2 linked regions of the Homo sapiens genome follow. Changing the gene in region 2 together with the main gene of any one other region gives a genetic interaction. Each region holds a gene or a part of one and is shown on either strand. Other genes may lie near its edges.

Region 1 (3,655 bases), on a different chromosome or scaffold from region 2:
GAGCCACTGGGCCCAGCTGATAATTTATTTTAAATGTACCTTTATAGTTATAGTTGCTACAACTTTTCAGAATCTTTTGATCCTGTTAGGAACAAAGAAATCATACCTTGTGATCTGCCACACCTAAGAAGGCAATGGCTGTGTAAAGCATATGAGTTAGAGCACTGTCATGATGTCCTTCAGCTAAGTGAGTTGAAGTAAAGGAAAAAAATTCCAAAAAGTCACTCTTTGACACCTGAAGTTCTCCTGAAATTTTAGTTACATTATTTTGGATTGCATATAGACTGATCTGGAGGCCTCAAACTTAATTACTTTCAATAACATGTTTCACTTAAAAACAAAACAAAATAAAACAATCTAACATTTAATTCCAGGACCTCATTTATAAACTGGAATGCCTGTATTTCTTTTGTTGTCTCCAAAACAATTATAATAGTGCTTAAGATAAACTTGCCAGATTTTAGTAGTTAACCTCTAAAAGACACATTGCATACATACTTTAAGAACGACAAAGGTACAAGAGCAAGGAATCTCCCTGGACCACTCCTGTCCAGTGGAATTAAGGTTGCCCTTTAAGACTGACATGTAAAATGAGTCCTAAATCTGTCTTCTAAGTCACTGACCACATAAGTCTTAGCAAATTAAGTGGCAAGCAAAAGAGGGTGGGGAATAGAGGTTGTATCACAAGCAACCTGGAGCTTTTCCAAAGTCACACTCTTCTCCCTCACTGTAACAAAGAAAATTATTATTAGTTTACTAATAAGTTTTAGGGCAGTGAGTATCAGTAATAGAAGAATAAAAACTGGTGCTTGGAGTTCTGCTGGATGGAGTGGGTAAGGATGTATGAATAGAAAATAGAAAAAAAGGCATGTTTGTAGAGTAAAATGAGTAGATATATTTGACTAGAAAGTTGGGTTTCTGTAAGAGAAGAGTTGGGGCTGAGCTAGAGATAATAATTTAGAGCAAGACAATGAATACTAGGTAAGGGAATTTGAACTTTTTCTTTCAGGCAAGAAGATACTAAAGGTTTTTCATTTATCAGCCTTTTAATTGTTAAATTATAAGGGAGCAAACATGTTGAGTGGCAAATCACCTTTTTTTTTTCCAGCACCAGGACATTCCAAAATATTCTTTCAATGTCCCTACATTTCTGAAAATTTAGGGTACTGTAGGTGATACAGAGATGCTATAAAATATTTAACTTATAATGAGTTTGTTCATTATTTGAATACTGATTTAGAATATCTACATTAATCTATGAAAGTTTCATTCATCATTGATCAGTTTAATTCACTTATCCTTTCTTTTTCCATTGTTCCAGGCTTCTAGTTTTCCTCAAGACTTGAAACAACTCTGATCTATTCCAAAAGGATACGGTGTTCAGCCATTTTAGCCATGAGATCATCATTGTCAAAAAGCAATAAACAGATCACAGCAATAATGAAAAAAGCAGCTCCCCTTGTCTGAAAATAAAGAAAACAACATCAAGGATGACTTTTTCAAGGGTTGATTTTTAAGACCGTAACTACATAAATACTAAAGAAAAACATTTTCTCAAGTAAGCATTTACAAAAATGCATTAAAAAACAGAAAAAAATCTGACATTAAAGCTCTTACATATTATAAGCTTACAGTATTGGCAGTAAGATATCAAAGAGATATAAACTAATGATAACATTGATTATCTCTTTGCTAACATGGCTGGGCATATTACTATGTACAAATTGGTACTGTTTACAGAATCAGCCTTCCTAAATGCTACTTTACTTCTGGTTGAAAAGCCCACGTAGCTAAAGAATAACTAGTAGGAACTTATTTTACTCTACAATATGCAAGGAATAGAGAATATTCTAGATACTACTCCTCTAGAGAAAAATAATCCAGAGGGCACGGTAAAACCAGCAAAGTCATTTCTAAGATCTAGTAAAGTACAAAGTACTTAAAAAGCTGATAAAATTTATGTTCTCATTCCAGGGAAAATTTTTTTTTTTTTTTCAGACAGATCTCGCTGTCGCCCAGGCTGGAGTACAGTGGCGTGAACACAGCTCACTGCAGCCTCCAATTCCTGGGCTCAAGTGATCCTCTTGCCTCAGCCTACCAAATAGCTGGGACCACAGGCATGTGCCACCATGCCTGGTTAATTTTTTATTTGTAGAGACCAGGTCTAGCCATGTTGTTCAGGCTGAGGAAAAAGGTTTTCATAAAAGAAAATTATAGAAAGGACATATTAGCTCGGTTTATGTAAATATTTCAGAATGGTAGCTTCAAGAGCAATCTAAATAGCATTACTATACATTCCTTTTTTTTTTTTGAGGAGAGTCTCTGTTGCCCAGGCTGGAGTGCAATGGCACGATCTCGGCTCACTGCAACCTCCATCTCCCGGGTTCAAGTGATTCTCCTGCCTCAGCCTCCTGAGTAGCTGGGATTACAGGTGCACATCACCATGCTTGGCTAATTTTTGCATTTTTAGTACAGACGGGTTTCACCATGTTGGTCAGGGTGGTCTTGATCTCTTGACCTCGTGATCCACCCGCCTCGGTCTCCCAAAGTCCTAGGATTACAGGCATGAGCCACTGTGCCTGGCTAAACAGCATTACTATACATTCTATATTTACAAATTTACAGGTATAACATGTCTTGTATGATACATATACTTGTAGAATACCTATTATATATAGATACATTAAGTGTATTATATATACCTATAATGGAAGTATAATACAATACTTCTATTAAAGTTTACAATGCAAAGTGAGGATACTCTTCATTCTATGATTACCACTATAATGGATAAATTCTGTTAGTGTGGTATTACAACAAAATTCAGTACACTACACATGAGAAAAACCATGTACTTTTAAATTTCTTAAGTTTTCACTGAGTTAGGATATGGCAACATCAACAACAATCAAATACAGAGAACATAACTTAATCTTTTTGTTAACAAAGAAGGCAACTGAGAATTTTGTAATGCTTCAGTCTCATAATTAAGAAAAAAAGGCCAGGCGTGGTGGCTCACGCCTGTAATCCCAGCACTTTGGGAGGCCGAGGCGGGTGGATCATGAGGTCAGGAGTTCAAGACCAGCCTGACCAATATGGTGAAACCCTGTCTCTACTAAAAGTACAAAAATTAGGCCAGGCGCAGTGGCAGGTGCCTGTAATTCCAGCTACTCAGGAGGCTGAGGCAGGAGAATTGCTTGAACCTGGGCAGCAGAGGTTGCAGTGAGCTGAGATTGTGCCACTGCACACCAGCCTGGGTGACAGAGTGAAACTCTGTCTCAAAAAAAAAAAAAAAGAAAAAGAAAAAAAAAGTCCGGGCGTGGTGGTTCACACCTGTAATCTCAGCACTTTGGGAGGCCAAGGCGGACAGATCACAAGGTCAGGAGTTCAACACCAGCCTGGCCAACATAGTGAAACCTTGTCTCTACTAAAAATACAAAAATTAGCCAAGTGTAGTGGCATGTGCCTGTAATCTCAGCTACTCGGGAGGCTGAAGCAGGAGAATTGCTTGAACCTGGGAGGTGGAGGTTGCAGTGAGCCAAGATGGTGCCACTGCACTCCAGCCTGGGCAACCCAGTGAGACTCCATCTCAAAAAAAAAAAAAAGAAAAAACAATCATCAAGTCCTGGACTGATGCCCTGATCCATTTCTCACA
Region 2 (3,655 bases):
TTTTACACAATTACTCATTGTTTAACATTTTTTCAACCGGCTTCTACAGTTCTTTTGAGCAGATTCTGTTTCTGCTCTTTGTACAATGAAAATCTCTTCAGTTCTTTCCTCCTTTGGGTGCCATGCACTAAATATTCACCTCTTTTAATAAGTAGTTGCTAAAGCTCATCTAATTATTCCGTTAAGTGGTATATATTCTGCAATGTCCTTTGAATACAGAAAACAACCCAGATACCATCTTTCCTAGATTTTCACTTATGCCAAGTATACTAAAGATCCCCTTCTCCAAGGCAGAAGAATGCTTAAAAAGTTACAAGTTAACATCAACAGGGTAAGTAGGGAAGTTTCCACAGAATCACAACACAGTTGATTTGTAGGCAACGATTGGGCACATCTCATATCAGAATCCCGCTCTTCTTGATGACCTCTGGTGAATGTCAACATTCTGGTCATATAATCAACTATCAGCTCATATTCCTACTCTGAAGTTCTAAACTTCATCAGCCAAAAAAAGAGGGACCAAGAAAATTTAAGTTCTTGAGATGTGCAGGTCTTCCAATGACCTACACACTCTAGATACAGCCTATTACAGTGCAGGATAAACAGACACGGTCCTCTGGAAGGGCTATTTTCACTATGGTAGAAGCTGCTTTGTAAAACAAAACAAAACTTGCCTGCTTAGTATAACTCACTATAATTCTCCTTATTTATTTGAGACAGGGTCTTGCTTTGTTGCCCAGGCTGGAGTGCAGGGGCATGATCACTGCAGCCTCGACCTCCCAGGCTCAAGTGATCCTCCTACCTGAACCTCCTGAATAGCTGGGACCACAGGTGCACACCACCAAGCTTGGCTACATGTCCTCTAATGAAGCTAATCTTTAAGTATTACCCTGTTTGTTATCCCTTAAAGTACAAGAACCTTTATCAGTGAGGAACAAACAGACTGCCTGGCACTAAGCATTCTAAATTTTGGTGACAGCTAGAAGCTCCACCTACCAAGCATCTACAGAAAACAACATGCCTGCAGTGGTGAGAAGGAAGCCACTAGTTTAAAGATAAGCAAAACTTGAAGGCAGATAATCCTGTTGGGAGAAAGGAATGGAAGGACAGTACCAGATGGCTCCTTCTTGAAGCAACTCAAATGAAGACCCAGGTCATTTGCAAACAATCCTGCTCCTTGCTTCACTTTTGCACTATGATGCTTCACATAATACTGAAGGCCTGTGATGGTAAAACTCACCAATAATGCACCATTTTGAAAGGTAGGTCCCTAACATGAGGAAATGTTAGGTTAAGACACTACTGTTAGGCCAGGCGTGGTGCCTTACGCCTGTAATCTTAGCACTTTGGGAGGCCGAGGTGGGAGGATCACGAGGTCAGGAGATCAAGACCATCCTGGCTAACACGGTGAAACCCTGTCTCTACAAAAAATACAAAAAAATTAGCCGGGCATGGTGGCGGGTGCCTGTAGTCCCAGCTACTTGGGAGGTTGAAGCAGAAGAATGGCATGAACCCGGAAGACGGAGCTTGCGGTGAGCCGAGATCGGGTCACTGTGCTCCAGCCTGGGCAACAGAGCGAGACTCCATCTCAAAAAAAAAAAAAAAAAAAAAAAAAAGACACTACTGTTACTATCAGTTACAGTAAATCAGAATGTTTTAGGCCAGGTGCAATGACTCACACCTGTAATTCCAACACTTTGGGAGGCCAAGGAGAAGTGATCAGTTAAATCTAGGAGTTTGAGACCAAACTGGGCAATACAGTAATATCCCATCTCTTAAGAAAAAAGTTAGCCAGGTCAGGCATGGTGGCTCACACCTGTAATCCCAGCACTTCAGTAGGCTGAGGTGGGCAGACCACAAGGTCAGGAGTTCAAGACCAACCTGGCTAATTTGGTGAAACTCCGTCTCTACTAAAAATACAAAACTTAGCCGGGCATGGTGGCAGGTGCCTATAGTCCTAGTTACTTGGGAGGCTGAGGCAGGAGAATCACTTGAACCTGGGAGGCAGAGGTGGCAGTGAGCTGAGATTGCACCACTGCACTCCAGCCTGGTGACAGAGCAACACTCCGTCTCAAACAAAACAAAACAAAACAAAAACAAAGAATGGTCTGGAAGACAGGATGCAGATAGATGATAAGTTTAAGTTTAGTGTGTTTGAAACCTGCTTACAGTCCAGAGTTAAGAGCAGAATAAGCTGGGGCCGGGCGCAGTAGCTCACACCTGTAATCCCAGCACTTTGGGAGGCCGAGGTGGGAGGATCACAAGGTCAGGAGATCGAGACCATCCTAGCTAACATGGTGAAACCCCGTCTCTACTAAAAATACAGAAAATCAGCCGGGCGTGGTGGCAGACACCTGTAGTCCCAGCTACTTGGGAGGCTGAGGCAGGAGAATGGCATGAACCCGGGAGGCAGAGCTTGCAGTGAGCCGAGATAACGCCACTGCACTCCAGCCTGGGCGACAGAGAGAGACTCCATCTCAAAAAAAAAAAAAAAAAAAAGAGCAGAATAAGCTAAAGAGAGAAATGTGAGCCACAAGATCTGAGATCTGAGCAGTCAGAAGTAAAGGACAATAATCATACGCAATTGGCAACCAGTGTTCAAAATGATAACATGAAATTCATGGATTGGAAAGAAATGATTAAATTATGAAATTAAGATGTTACTGTTACATGGTTCTGAAAAAGAACTACAATTAAAACTGTATTTCATTTGTTCTTAATTCTGGGTAACACTAGAAATAACTGGCCAGGTGCAGTGGCTCACGCCTGTAATCCCAGCACTTTGGGAGGCGAGTAGATCACCTGAGGTCAGGAGTTCGAGGCCAGCCTAGCCAACATGGTAAAATCCATCTCTACTACAAATACGAAAATTAGCCAGGCATGGTGGCAGGTGCTTGTAATCCCATCTACTCCAGAGGGTGGGGCAGGAGAATTGCTTGAACTTGGGAGGCAAAGGTGGCAGTGAGCTGAGATCACAGGACTACACTCCAGCCTGGGTGACAGAAAATATAACAATAATAAATAAAATTTAAAGACATCACTGGGCCAGGCATAGTGGTTCACGTCTGTAATCCTAGCACTTTGGGAGGCCAAGGCGGGCGGATTACCTGAGGTCAGGAGTTCAAAACCAGCCTGACCAACATGGTGAAACCCCACCTCTACTAAAAATACAAAAATTAGCCGGAGTGGTGGTGTGCGCCTGTAATCCCAACTACTCAGGAGGCTGAGGCAGGAGAATTGCTTGAACCCAGGAGATGGAGGTTGCAGTGGACCGAGATCGCACCACTGCACTCCAGCCTGGGTGACAGAGTGAGACTCCATCTCATTAAAAAAAAAAAACAAACAAACAACAAAAAAAGAAATAACTGATGACAGGTTTCCACAATCATAACACTGAGAGAAAAAGACTATGCCTACAAAAGTTCAAAAGAAATTTAAAAAACAATGCAAAACTTTAGAGGTGAGCTATCAAACACACATAACACATATGTATTTCACAGAACTACATTAACATATAAAATGTTTGCAGAGATAATCAGAATTCCAAATTATTTCCTTGAATAATAACTGTCGAAGTAAACAGGCTTCCAGTTCAAACAATACAAAATTGCAGGAATTAACTTTTACATTGCTTTACTTAGACAACACACGCTTT

Evidence for each region. Genes that interact genetically often act in the same process or in processes that back each other up.
Region 1: changes in ARL5B (region 2) and SLC30A5 together harm fitness less than expected from each alone (positive genetic interaction), as found in Homo sapiens cells (one large-scale study listed by BioGRID).

What each region holds. Positions count from the first base shown.
Region 1 is NC_000005.10:69,110,948-69,114,602, reverse strand, and holds part of SLC30A5 (proton-coupled zinc antiporter SLC30A5), read right to left. Parts: intron 1,464-3,655; coding exon 1,376-1,463; intron 184-1,375; coding exon 107-183; intron 1-106. UniProt on the Homo sapiens protein: Together with SLC30A6 forms a functional proton-coupled zinc ion antiporter mediating zinc entry into the lumen of organelles along the secretory pathway.
Region 2 is NC_000010.11:18,662,391-18,666,045, reverse strand, and holds part of ARL5B (ADP-ribosylation factor-like protein 5B), read right to left. Parts: intron 1-3,655.